Linked DNA regions of Homo sapiens. The protein of the gene in region 4 interacts with the protein of the main gene of each other region in a pairwise test. Each region holds a gene or a part of one and is shown on either strand. Other genes may lie near its edges.

What was found. The genes of interacting proteins can lie anywhere in the genome.
Region 1: the proteins of SNCA (region 4) and EXOC5 interact in binary tests that used the Homo sapiens proteins (3 or more experiments, as listed by UniProt).
Region 2: the proteins of SNCA (region 4) and LNX2 interact in binary tests that used the Homo sapiens proteins (3 or more experiments, as listed by UniProt).
Region 3: the proteins of SNCA (region 4) and L3MBTL3 interact in binary tests that used the Homo sapiens proteins (3 or more experiments, as listed by UniProt).

What each region holds. Positions count from the first base shown.
Region 1 is NC_000014.9:57,262,273-57,265,905, reverse strand, and holds part of EXOC5 (exocyst complex component 5), read left to right. Parts: intron 1-3,633. UniProt on the Homo sapiens protein: Component of the exocyst complex involved in the docking of exocytic vesicles with fusion sites on the plasma membrane.
Region 2 is NC_000013.11:27,564,897-27,568,529, reverse strand, and holds part of LNX2 (ligand of Numb protein X 2), read left to right. Parts: intron 1-690; coding exon 691-890; intron 891-3,633.
Region 3 is NC_000006.12:130,049,581-130,053,213, forward strand, and holds part of L3MBTL3 (lethal(3)malignant brain tumor-like protein 3), read left to right. Parts: intron 1-70; coding exon of another isoform or gene 71-175; coding exon 176-250; intron 251-1,668; coding exon 1,669-1,828; intron 1,829-3,278; coding exon 3,279-3,411; intron 3,412-3,633. UniProt on the Homo sapiens protein: Is a negative regulator of Notch target genes expression, required for RBPJ-mediated transcriptional repression. It recruits KDM1A to Notch-responsive elements and promotes KDM1A-mediated H3K4me demethylation.
Region 4 is NC_000004.12:89,823,608-89,827,240, reverse strand, and holds part of SNCA (alpha-synuclein), read left to right. Parts: intron 1-3,633. UniProt on the Homo sapiens protein: Neuronal protein that plays several roles in synaptic activity such as regulation of synaptic vesicle trafficking and subsequent neurotransmitter release.

The DNA of each region.
Region 1 (3,633 bases), on a different chromosome or scaffold from region 4:
CTCAGAATACCTTCTTAGTTTCAACTTTTGTTGACAGATCTTTCTGAAAAGATCCATGTACAGTGTTTTAAAATCTCCTCAGGATAGACATTCTGAGTAAGGATTCTTATGTGGTGTAGATAAATTGTATCTTCTACATATACAAAGTGGCTGGGCTCAGAAATTCCTTTTCTTTGTTTTTGAGACAGGGTCTTGCTCTATCGCATAGGCTGGAGTGCAGTTGGGTAATCACTGCTCGCTGCAGCCTCTACCCTCCTGGCACAATCCATCTGCCCACCTTAGCCTCCAGAGTAGCTGGGACTAGAGGTGCCTGCCTCCATGCCCAGCTGATTTTTAAAAATTTTTTGCAGAAATAAGGTTTTACCATGTTGCCCAGGCTGGTCTTGATCTCCTGGGCTTAAACAATCTGCCCACCTTGGCCCCACAAGGTGCTGGGATTACAGGTGTGAGCCACCGTGCCCCGCCAGTTCTTTTTATGTTGTTGCAAATGTTCCTCTCTCCTTTTATTGTACTACTGAGGACATTCTTTCCTCATTTGCTTAATTTTTTCCCCCATAATTCTTCAAGAATCTTCGCTTTTCTCTGTTTGGGCTACCATTACGGGAGAGTTCTTGGTTAGTAACTAGGGTTAATTATTCATTCATTCTACAGATATTTGTTGAGTACCTTTTAAGTTCAAGATAAAGTTCTGAAATTGACGAGGCTGCATGTCTCAAAGGGCATGCCATAGAAATATTAATCCTATGAGATGTGTCGCAAAAAAAAAAAAAAAGGGTTCAGTGACCAAGTAAGTTATGGAAATGAGCATAGTCTGTTTCGTTGGAGATTTGCGGTATACCTTAATATGTTAAAGATGATGAGAAGTCCATTTCCCCAACTTTTTTCACCATGAGACTGTTTTCTTTCTTTTTTAAAGAGACTTTTATTTTCTACTGCTTGTTAACTTAATTTTGTGAATTACAAGGTACATATTTTGGAAAATAGAATTAAGTATAGAACTTGTCCTTATCAAATAGAGGGAGAGAAGGTGGATATATGATACTATACTCTTAAAAATAAGGTTATAAATGGTTTCAAAGAGGTCTAGATGTGCCATAGGTGTTGAGAGGATGGGAAGATTGCCTCTAGAAGAAAGAAAGGATTAGAAGGTGGCATTTGAATTACCTACAGAGGATAAATTAGATTTGAGTTTGTGGAACTGGATGGAGGGACTTTTCAGTAAAGCAGACAATAAAAGCTAAGACATAAAGGGAGGGTTGTAGGCCCTGGAGATAAGGGGAGCATTCATTTTGGCTGGAGTATATATAGCACACATAAAGAGGAAGAGTGGCATGTAAGGTAAATCGGGGTTTAATTTTGGAGGTCCTAAATGCCAGGATTAAAATTTCATTTTTTTTTCTTTCTGTAAATATAGGTTCCTTGATAATAGTGCTTGAGGTCAGGTAATTTGGCTATGATAGCAATGGCTGTTTGACTTCCAAATTAGAGTATGAATATTGAAGAACACCTTTTCCCACATTTATTTGTCTCTTAATTTTTCAAACTAAATTACAAAAGCTAGTTAAACAGAGTTGTTGAAAATGATGTCTCTTGTTCAATTAGCTAGCCAGGTATATACTAACGAACATGAGATACACAAGTAAGGAGCACCCCGTTACTGTCAAGGTGCTGAAATGCTATTTATTTTAACCATATTAGTTGTTAAGTGTTTATAGACCTTGGCTACCAATTGTAGTAACATGGATATGATAGAATGTATTCATTCTGCAAACGTTGAATGAATCTGTAGGCCAGACATTCCAGGTACTAGAGTTAAAAGATGTTGAGTTAAGCATCTGGTTGAGGAAGACAGACATGTTAATACATTAATACAGCGCAGTGGGAGTATAGAATCTTTTCCAGGGATTATTAGGAAAGGTTTCATTTAGTAATGGCATATAGAAATTGGATGTTGATGGATGAGTAGAGATTTTTCAGACAGGAGAAGGGCATTCCAAGGCAGAGACACAAGATGGCTCCAGTTTGTTGTAAGGTGAGGCAGTTGAGAAGAGTTAGGATGTGTATGTGCATATTTTAAGAATAGGGAGTGGTGGCAAGGCATTGAGACCATAGGAGTTCGAGGGCAGTTTTTTTGTTTTTTTGCTTTTTTTTTTTTTTTTTTTTTTTAGGCTGGAGTGCAGTGGCGTGATCTCAGCTCACTGTAACCTCTGCCTCTGGTTTCAAGCGATTCTCCTGCCTCAGCCTCCTGGGTAGCTGGGATTATAGGTGCCTGCCACCATGCCCAGCTAATTTTTTTATTTTTAGTAGAGATGGGCTTTCGCTGTGTTGGCCAGGCTGGTCTCGAACTCCTGACCTCATGATCGACCTGCCTCGGCCTCCCAAAGTGCTGGGATTACAAGCGTGAGCCACCGTGCCTGGCCAGTTTTTTTGTTTTTTGAGACAGGGTTTTGCTCTGTCACCCAGGCTGGAGTGCAGTAGTGTAATCACAGCTCACTGCAGCGTCGACCTCCTAGGCAAAAGCGATCCTCCCACCTCAGCCTCCTGAGTAGCTGGGACTACAGGCATGTGCCACCATGCTTGGCTAATTTTTTATTTTTTGTAGGGACGGGGTCTCATTGTATTGCCCAGGCTAGTCTCCAACTCCAGGACACAAGTGGTCCTCCCACCTAGGGCCTCCCAAGGTGCTGGGATTATAGGCATGAGCCACTGGGTCCAGCCTGGGGGAAGTTTTAAGAAGGCTTTTTATACCTCATGCAAGAGGGCTGACCTTACTTTTTTTGGGTAAGGGTCAGGGAGACAGACAATTTTAATGTTAGTGTGAAGAATGGCCTTCTATGGGGGAAGAAATTGTTAGCTGGGAAAATAGGGATCGTGGGCAACCTGACATAGTTCTTGTCATTTGGTAAGTGTTCCAGAATTATCTGTTGACTGATTAATCTGGCCAGATGAAAGTCTAACCTAATTCAATGGTGACAGAGAAGAAATTTGAAAAGAATTTTGGAGGAAGAATTAAAGGAATTTGATTACTGAGGAGTTAAAATTCCAAATTTGTAAACTTTGAAAAGTAGGTGGTTGGTGATTCATTAACTGTGACAGAGAAAATTAGAAGGACCCTTGCAGGGGGAAGAAATAATATATTCATTAAGTATATATATACACACACACATATATACGTATATATACACACACATATATATACATATATATATACATATATACTTAATGTATATATATACACTTATGTATATATGTATATATGTATATATACTTAATGTATAAATATATACATATATGTATATATATACTTAATATATGTGTATATATATACGTATATATATATACACACACACACACACACACACACACATATGTATTTACACTTTGAGTTTTTAGCAAGACATCCTGGTAAAGAAGTCCACAAGGCAAATGGAAATATGAATTAGTAACTCAGAAAGAGATCACAGTTAGACATAGCAGTTTAGGAAGTATCACTTTATGTGGGTGGTAATTTAGCCAGGAGGTGGAAGACATCTCTCAGCTCTGCCTCTTACTAGTTGTGTGATCTTGGCAAGTTACCCAACCTCTTTGTACCTCAGTTTTCTCATCTGTAAAATGGGGGAAATAATGGTATCT
Region 2 (3,633 bases), on a different chromosome or scaffold from region 4:
ATACAACCAGTAAATGACTGGGTTTGTATTTGACTCCAAGACCATGCATCTCACCGTTATACACCTCTGGTACCAGCCACTGCTCTGTTACCCACTAGGAAGTTAACAGAAGGCCCGTAGTCATGGATCTTGGGCATATCATGGTAGTGGGCCCTTGATATTTCCTTTTAAAAATGATTTTCTTTTTCCAAGCTCTACTACAAATTTGAATTTTCCTTGCCGCAACTATGCGCCTTCTTCATTTCCTACGTCTCCGTTCAAGACCCACCTCTTCTTACGAGCTTGATGTGGCTACTCTCTCAACACCTGTGCTGTTTCTATGCCACAGAGCTAGTGTTTCCTTTGTACTGCCTCTCATTATGTACAGTTGTTTCGTGGTCCAAATTTTCTCTCATCAATGAGGACAGAATGACTTTCTTTTCATATTTCTTAATCAGATCACTGTGTCGTCCCTAGTGATCTGATACATAGTAGCTATTTATTATTTACTGATCAGTTTTAGTAGAGAAAATTTTTAGATAATCTTAACAACAGATATTTTGTCATTTTGTTTCTTATCCAGTGATACTGCTTAGCTGTTAATCATGTATTAATGTGACATACTTACCTGAAGATAATCAGAATATAAATTGTTGGGTTTGTTTATTTTTTTAACATCTGTTTTTGTCTGTCTCATTTTTAACTTGGCAGCCACACAACAGCCACTTAGTTTACCAGAAGGAGAAATCACCACGATTGAAATTCATCGGTCCAATCCTTACATTCAGTTAGGAATCAGCATTGTGGGTGGCAACGAAACACCTTTGATTAACATTGTCATCCAGGAGGTCTATCGGGATGGGGTCATTGCCAGAGACGGGAGACTTCTTGCTGGAGACCAGATTCTTCAGGTATCAGTTTTAATTATTCTGTTAACTTGTGCCTTTTTGTTCCATTCTTAACACTTAAACCTTAGAAAATTGTGCTGTTTTGGAACCTAAATTATATATAGATTAGTTTTACTGTTTCTATATGCAAAACATCAGAATTTATGTGTAATTTGTGGTATTTTCCCATATACACAGAGTATTTTTTCTTCCTATCTTAATTTTCATTCCTGCATGCGATGTGGCTTGGCACATGATCTCAGGCTTGCTGAGCTAGCTAGACTCTTCCTTGGGCTGACTAGCCTCTTCCTGCTTGGACTTCTTGAATGACTGTTCAAGGGTCACCTTCATCCATGTTGAAATTATCATCTCATTGGTATTATTTTATACCCAGTTTTCCCATTCATTACCTTCATTGTTGGATTTATCCTTTTCTATACAGACTACTAAAATCTAGAAAAGAAGGAACCATGCAGCACTCATAATTTATACCACAGATTATAAGATAGAGTTCAGAAATCTTGCAGTCATCTCCTATCAACTCCCTAATGCACTCTCCTCAGCAAACACTCTAACTCTGCATTTTCAATAATCCCCTTCGCTCCCCTTACTGTTTTCCCTTTCAGAAGATGATCTTTAAGAAGAAACAGGTATTCTCCAGAAATAACTAGCATGGGACAAGATATTTTATTAGAGGGCAAGTTGAGATGAGGGGAGGAGGATGGTAAGAGTTCTACAATCCCGGAGTTGATGTTAATACCGGCCTGGACCATTTTCATCATACAAAGGTGATAATAATTGAAGCTTAAAAACGGATAACTTCTAGGAGAGAGAGGAAATATTCATGAACAAGAAAAAATGTCTCCTGTCAACCCAAGCGCAGGGACTCCTCTCTCTCCTTGGATTTGTGGTTCGGTCCTTCACCATGACCTGTTGATATCTACCCCCTACTTCCATTTTCCTGCCACTTCTTGAGTCTAGGACTTCTCTTCTTCATATCTAATTTAGTAGAATACCCCATCATATACTTCTGCCTCCCAACTCTCCTCCCTTAAATCTGAAACAATCACTGCCAGGTTAATACATCAGTAACCCTGCTTGCCTTGCAAAGGTTCAACTAGGAGGTCAAGTCCAGACTGATTAATCTAATAGTCAGGGTCCTCCACGGTCTCTTCTACAACCTGTCTTGTTAATCTCAATTCTTCATTTCAGGCACACCAGCTCATTCATTTCTCACAACATTCTAGGCACTATACTAGTTGCTGGTGGTACATTTCAGAGCAAAATACTGACCTGTCCTCGTGGAATATACAATCTAGTGGAAGAGCCAGACATAGCAGTCTTCTTCCTTCCCTGCAAACACCTTATTCCCACATTGCAGCCTGTCCTCATCTCATGAGCCAGTTTGTTCACCTTCATCCTTAAAGCTTTTGTTCAGCCATTCTCCCCCATACTGATTCCTCCTACATTAGTTATTATTGGCATTCATCACTTTTCTCTTCATCACTTGGCACGTGATGAGTTACAGAGAATTGTTTGAACATTTTACGTATGTAGGCATGATCTAAGGTAATTGCAACCACCCTAATGGTACAGATTATGATACAGATTTCTCATAGCTTGTAGTAAGTGCTCAGAAAATATTTGCTGAGTCAATAAAAGAGTGAATTTGAATATAAGATGCTGTTGGGAATAGCCATCTCCTTTATTAAAAGAAAAACTTGGTTAGGATTTTTAGTTGTTGAAAAGAAATCTCTAGACTTGGGGCTATGGGAGTCTACAAAGGCAGCCAGGATTGACCCTACTAGGGATTCTTGGGTTTGATTTCCACTCCCGCTTGTATGCTGCTTTTCATGGTGTATTATTCCTGAAAATAATTAACACCAAGCCTAAAACCTTTCCTTCATTACCCCTAGGCATGGCTGAGACAGACTGAGCTTTCAAACAGTGTTTTTTTTACCAAATACTTAGATGTAATAGACGAATACAGGAACATAACTAATCCAGCTCATATAAAATCAGATTTCTGATCCTGTCATAGCTAGCTATTTAGTTATCCTAGCTGCATTTTATGATATTAGTACTTTAGCTGCACAGGCTGGCACAACTTGTAGGACCCCTTGTATTATTTACATCCTAGCTCCTGACTTGATTTTGCAGAGAGCGACTCTTACAGCTCATTTCCCAGGTTCATCCTCCCAGACATCTTGACACTTTGGTGGTCAGGACCAGGAAGGGCAGATAGTCCTTTTCTGCAGCCCACTGAGTGTTCTTTGACTCTCCCACTTCTGGGCTTTTTAGCTGAAATGTAAGTGTACACTTATTTTTTGCTACTAGCCCAGTATTGTTACAAATGTTTTTATTTATATTTCTTTGAATATAACAGATTTGTTTAAGTTTTTTTACTAATACATTTCATCAGTGGGCTTGTTTCTATTTTAGAGAATGGTTCATTAACACTACTGAATCTTTAGACCTCAAAAGATTGTAATTATCTGAAATTATCAACCATATTTTTGGGAATTAATTCAGTTATAAAGTCTACATTGTAGAAATTCCACTGCATTATTACTGTTTATGGAAACCTGTATACTAATAACTCCAATAATGGCAATCTTACATCTAGTTTAATGATTCAAATTGATAAGAAAAGTCTGAGCACATAATCTGATTAATGAATTCACAAAGGGTCTCTCCTATTATAGGCCCTGACTTCTGGTTGGCTTTTAACTGGTGTGTTGGAGCCAAGTAAAGCCACCCCCCTTTC
Region 3 (3,633 bases), on a different chromosome or scaffold from region 4:
CTTCTTTGTCCTAATGCCAGATCTGTAGTAGCACAAGGTTAGTTGGAAATTAAGTAAATCCATGTTGTAGCCTACACAGGTGATTTAGCCAAAAGCCTGCCACTTTTTTTCTCATCTACTCCGATGGTTGTAACTAACACCTATATGCTGATGACTCCTAAATCTACATCTCCAGCCCCGACCTCTCCCCCGAGCTCCAGGCCCGTATTTCCACCTGCCTACTGGACATCTCCACCTGGATGTCCCACAGGTACCTCAAACTCCACATGTCTGAAATGCAATTCATTTTCTATTTCTTTCTCCCCTCCCCACAAACCTGCTCTTTCTTCCCTAACCCATATTTCAGTTGACAATAGCACCATCCACCCAGTGGACAAGCAAGAAACACAGGAGTCATCCTGAATTTGTTCTTCCCATCCCCATATCCTGTTACTTATACCTCTTGATTTTTATTTCCTAATATGTCTCAGATCTGGCCTTTTCTATCTATCATCTTTGCCATGGCCTTAATGTAGGCTCTTCTCAACTCTCATCTGAACTATTGCAGATGTCACTCTACTTCTAATTTTACCCCCTTCCAATTGGTCCTGCACCTTGAAGCCAGAGGAACTTAACGTAGATTGCTTATCTGACACTTCACTGATTTCTCATTGCCTTTTTAGCAGAACATACAAAGATCTGGGTGCCTGCACCTACCTGCTCGCCTTGTCTCCTCAGTCTCTGTTTCCTTCTTTGTATGTTGTGTTCTGGCAGTGCCAGCAGCACAGAATTACGTGTAATTTTCCCAACACATCATGTGGTTTCATGCTTTCTTGCCTTTACTCATACTGCTTTTTCTGGCTCAAATGCCATTTCTCTCTTTGTCCAGTTGGTAAATTCCTCTTTGGCCTTCAAAACCCTGTTGAGGCTTTCTATCAGAAAATCCTTCTCTGACCTTACCCCAGGCTGAATGAATCACTTCTTCTGTACTACTTCTGGACCTTGTTTATGCCTCTAGTATTGCATGTATCACATTTTATTATAAATACTGGTTTTCTTGCCTCTCTTTTCTTCTAGACTGTGAGCTCTCTTGGGCAAGGTCTCTACTGTCATTATTAATGTCTAGAATAAATTGGTGCCTAATAACTGCTGGCTGAATGAATGATTAGCCTAACAATTCAGGCAAAAGGAAATGCGAGTTTCTACACAATTTGGATAGCTATGAGTCAGGAAATGTACTACATTGAAAGCGTAATAGAAGAGATGTTGATTTAGCCAATTAAGTAAAACAAAATCATTCATCAAAAGATTATAAATGTGAAATAAAAGAAGATCCTCTGAAATTTTCTGAAAGATACAAATATAGAAGAAGTTTCTATAGATCGATATATGCGTCTTCTGAATTTAGTGACTAGTGAAATTTTCTTCATTTTACTTTGAACTCTGTAGAAAAAGCCTTGGGCAAGCTTTTATCCTTTCTGCAGAATATTTTTTCATTATTTGAATGACTTGAGTGATTTTTACAGAGCCCATACCCCCCGAAAACACTATCATTTGATCATTCATTCATTCAGCAAACACTATTCTTTATTGTGTTGCTAACAAAATTATTAGAAGAAAAAGTTTGATTGTATTTTAGAATGTCTTCTGTCATGGTTGTAATTTGCATTTCTTCTTTTCATCTTCTAGTCTTTTCAGAGAAGACTGGGATGCCTTTCAGGTTGAAGGATCCAGTGAAAGTAGAAGGGCTTCAGTTCTGTGAGAACTGTTGTCAGTATGGCAACGTAGATGAGTGTCTTTCTGGAGGAAACTATTGCAGCCAGAATTGTGCTCGGCACATCAAAGATAAGTAGGTTTTTGCCCCATTCCATCTATAAATTGAGTTTTAGATTCCAAAGTCATGGTGCCTGAGAATATAGAAGTTTTATGCTCTCGGACATTGATCACCTATTGATACCTTTTTCCCAGAGACTTTTCCTTTAGGGCCACATGGGCCCTAACCCCTATATGGGACCTGGTGACGTCTGTCATGCCTGGTCTGAGTTGTATTACTAATATTCTGCCTGCAAAACAGCCTCTGCCTCTGCCTTCAGTCTTCCATTTCCATTCATTTGATTGTCTTCAGCTAAGAGTATTTAGTTTTTTCTGGGCTATATACACATTTCGATGACACTGACATTTATAGAAACATAGTTTTGTTTATATTTTGGGAATTCTTAGGTAACTCGGTTAAAACTCCACCTACGGCATAAAGCTTCCACTGATTCGTAATCAGCTGAATGGAAATGGCCATAGGGAAGAGTGTAGTGAGTTGGGTCACTGATGATCTCAAGGTGTGGACTGAGGATTATGAGACAGAGGCATCAGCTGTAACTGGTAGTGGTGTGTGACCTTCCCATTTGGGGACAGTCTGACAAAGTTCAGCTTATCACCAAGAAGGTGTTTTTCTTGCATATCATTGTATACTACAAAGAAATGACTGGACATTTATATTTTAGTGGCATTTCCCATGTATTTTAATCAGCACAGGCTTGGGAAATGTTTTCTTTTTCTTTTTTTTTTTTTGAGATGAAGTCTTGTTCTGTCGCCAGGCTGGAGTGCAGTGGCGTGATCTTGGCTCACTGCAACCTCCACATTCCCAGGTTCAAGCAATTCACCTGCCTCAGCCTCCCGAGTAGCTGGGACTACAGGCGCACGCCACCACACCCAGCTAGTTTTTTCTATTTTAGTAGAGACGGGGTTTCACCATGTTAGCCAGGATGGTCTCAATATCCTGACCTCATGATCCGCCTGCCTCAGCCTCCCGAAATGCTGGGATTAAAGGTGTGAGCCACTGCGCCCAACTGGAACTGTCTTGTTTTTCTTGGATAACTGATGTTTCACAATGTTACACTTAGCCTTTTTTCAATTGGATTTGTCATTCTTAATAACTGCTAGATCCTTCTTTGACCCTGAAAACAAATATCTCTAAATAATCAATTCTTTTATTAGTATAGATGGTAGATGTGACAGACAAATAACTTGTTAGAACCTATTTCATACATATTGCTGGCCCCCTTTTGAAATTAATATATAAGGTAATTTTCATTTTCTGCCCTGACAGACAGATGTCATATGTAATAGTTGTTTTCAGTGTTCCTGATATATGATATTCTCATGCCTACAGATTTCTCCTGGTAGTTAAAGATTTTTCCTTTGCAGGGTGATTTTTTTTTAATGATTGTTGCATTGATAATCAACAAGTAGATGTTTGATAGGTATTGTCTCTTGTCACTATTTTGGGTTTATAAACACAACAGAGATCAGAAGGAAGAAAGGGACGTAGAAGAAGACAATGAGGAAGAAGATCCTAAGTGTAGTCGGAAGAAAAAACCAAAATTATCTCTGAAAGCTGACACCAAGGAGGATGGAGAAGAGAGAGATGATGAAATGGTGAGTGCCTCTGCCTGACACCAGGAGCACAGGGATGCATCTTTAGTGGGTAGCATCACAGTCACAAGCACTGCTCTGGAGCCCACTGAGTTCAAATGTGGGTTCCAGGACTATCTGTGTTAGTGTCAGTAAGTTACATGGCCTCTGTGTGCCTTGCTGTCCTGATCTCAAAATGGGAATCATAAACAATAGTATCCTTCTCTCAGGGTGAAAAAGTGGGAT
Region 4 (3,633 bases):
ATACAGTGTTGTGGATATGACTAAAAACACAGGAGTCAGATCTTCTTGGTTCAACTTCCTGCTTACTCCTTACCAGCTGTGTGTTTTTTGCAAGATTCTTCACCTCTGTGTGATTTAGCTTCCTCATCTATAAAATAATTCAGTGAATTAATGTACACAAAACATCTGGAAAACAAAAGCAAACAATATGTATTTTATAAGTGTTACTTATAGTTTTATAGTGAACTTTCTTGTGCAACATTTTTACAACTAGTGGAGAAAAATATTTCTTTAAATGAATACTTTTGATTTAAAAATCAGAGTGTAAAAATAAAACAGACTCCTTTGAAACTAGTTCTGTTAGAAGTTAATTGTGCACCTTTAATGGGCTCTGTTGCAATCCAACAGAGAAGTAGTTAAGTAAGTGGACTATGATGCCTTCTAGGGACCTCCTATAAATATGATATTGTGAAGCATGATTATAATAAGAACTAGATAACAGACAGGTGGAGACTCCACTATCTGAAGACGGTCAACCTAGATGAATGGTGTTCCATTTAGTAGTTGAGGAAGAACCCATGAGGTTTAGAAAGCAGACAAGCATGTGGCAAGTTCTGGAGTCAGTGGTAAAAATTAAAGAACCCAACTATTACTGTCACCTGATGATCTAATGGAGACTGTGGAGATGGGCTGCATTTTTTTAGTCTTTTCCAGAATGCCAAAATGTAAACACATATCTGTGTGTGTGTGTGTGTGTGTGTGTGTGTGCGTGTGTGTGAGAGAGAGAGAGAGACTGAAGTTTGTACAATTAGACATTTTATAAAATGTTTTCTGAAGGACAGTGGCTCACAATCTTAAGTTTCTAACATTGTACAATGTTGGGAGACTTTGTATACTTTATTTTCTCTTTAGCGTATTAAGGAATCTGAGATGTCCTACAGTAAAGAAATTTGCATTACATAGTTAAAATCAGGGTTATTCAAACTTTTTGATTATTGAAAACTTTCTTCATTAGTTACTAGGGTTGAATGAAACTAGTGTTCCACAGAAAACTATGGGAAATGTTGCTAGGCAGTAAGGACATGGTGATTTCAGCATGTGCAATATTTACAGCGATTGCACCCATGGACCACCCTGGCAGTAGTGAAATAACCAAAAATGCTGTCATAACTAGTATGGCTATGAGAAACACATTGGGATAAATCGGCTGCTATCATAATCATTCCTCTCCCACATCAGATAAATGAATTAACTTTTTGAATAGGGTTATTTAATATAAAGTGCTTAAGTCTAATTATGAGAAGAAATAAGATAATTACACTTCAATGGTTAAAGAGAGGGAGAATAATTTGCATATTATGCCTGATGTAAAATGTTTATTATGGGTACATATTAAGTGCTAACTAATTGTTAATTGTTCTTGCTACAAGTCTTAATGCAGGGAAACAAGAAATTATTACATAGTACCTAATATTATCTTCTAATATTAAAGAAACAATTTCCCCTAAATTCATCCCATTAGCTTTTTTTTTTTCGGTGGGGCAGGGGAGAAATACAGACTTCAGTAAACTTGGGCTGGGAACTTTCTACCTACAAAGTTCAAATAAAATAAATTATCCTAGTTAGATAATATCAATGAAAAATCCACCAACTTAAATCCTGGCTGTTTGATCTCAGGAAATTATTTCAGTTATCAACTTAATGCATCATATTATAGAAATATATGAAAATGTGTTTAATTAAACTTACTGAATGATATGTTTTTTCAGGTACTTTAAAAATAAACTATGATATAAAGTTACCTATTTTTCATGCAAGTATAGTATAAAGAAATTTCTAACACTGGAGATTTTCTGAAGGTTTTGATTCTTATAAATTTATTACATCATAATGAACAAAACTAATTTTCAACATATTATGATTTAAATTTCCTTAGTAAATTGTTTCAAATTTATTTTCTTTAAATCCATATTTACATATGTATATTTAAATATACATATTTACTTGTATAACAATTCAAAACCATATATTAATTTTATAATTTTGTTTAATGTCAAAGGTTAGATTTGGCTATATCTATTCTAAAAGTTGGTATCACATTTCCTTTTTGGAATTTTATTTTTAAAGTAGCTAAAGTCAAATATAAACCTATTATTTATATTAATGCAGACATTAGAGGTAGACACTAAATTCATTTTAGTATATTCTAAATTATTTATTATCTACTATGAAATAATATAAAGAAAAATAAAGCAGAATCCCTGATTTCAAAGAACTCAATTGCCGAAAAACAGTTACCATTTATTAGACCCAAAATGTACTAATATGAGTGTGTCTCTTTTCCTTTTGTTTTGTCACCCGTCATTTGGAATGTCAGTGAGTAGAGAGATAGTGTGAAAGGCCCTCAAGGGGAAAAATAGAGGTTAAAGGTCAGCAGAGACCCTACTAGAGAAATCAGTTCTACAGAAATGTTTTTAAATGTGTCGATTATTGCTACATGTACACTCTGTCATTTTGTAATGTAGCCATTTTATTTATGATTATAATAATAAAACAACAAAATTATAATAATGTGTAGAGTACATTTTACTGTGCAGTGTATTGCATTAAAACTAGATTAAAATTTATACATATATAAAAGGCTATCTAGATATTATAAAATTTATGGCTGGATCTGTAAAAAATTCAAAACCTATTTTTAATCTCGCTTTGAGATTTTATAACAAGAAAATGTTCGTTTCAAGCAAAATTTTCAATTCACGTCCTTGAAAAGGAAAAAAATGACAACTTGAAACACATAATTGACTATTTTTAAAGGATCAACATTTCAGAAATGTTTTAAAACATAAGATTTTCAGTACAGCTTTTCGCTGGCATTTAAATCGAACTTTGAATTGTAAATAGCTCTTGCTCTTAAGGAGACATCAGCCATATCCTTAGAAGTGGCACGGAGTTGTTAGGTAGTTGTACAAAATTCTAGCCTAAAAGACAAATAGGGAGCAACACTACTGTGGACCGTTTCTGGTCTTGGGCTGTGTGGCTATGTCAGGCTTGCCCACATTGCCTGTACTAAGGAGAAAGCCTCTTGTCCTTACAGACCCCCTTAGCTTACATAGTCTATTTGAAAACAAATTGCTTTGTCCACACCATTTAAATATTGGCTTCAGGCCAGGCGCGGTGGCTCACGCCTGTTATCCCAGCACTTTGGGAGGCTGAGGCGGGCAGATCACGAGGTCAGGAGATCGAGACCATCCTGGCTAACACGGTGAAACCCTGTCTCTACTAAAAATATAAAAAAATTAGCCGGGTGTGGTGGCGCGCACCTGTAGTCCCAGCTGCTGGGGAGGCTGAGGCAGGAGAATGGCCTGAACCCGGGAGTCGGAGTTTGCAGTGAGCCGACATCGTGCCACTGCACTCCAGCCTGGGTGACAGAGCAAGACTCCGTCTCAAAATAAATAAATAAATAAATAAATAAGTAAATATTGGCTTCTTCAACTGGTGAGATGAAACCTATACAATAGTCATGTGAATAGCACTAAACAGCTGACATGGTGTAACTCCTCTCAGACTGAGGCTTATCTGGGGAGTACAAAGCATGTCAAGAAAATGTGCCTTCATTTCCTTAGATGAGTGTCCCCATCCTCCACTCTCCTC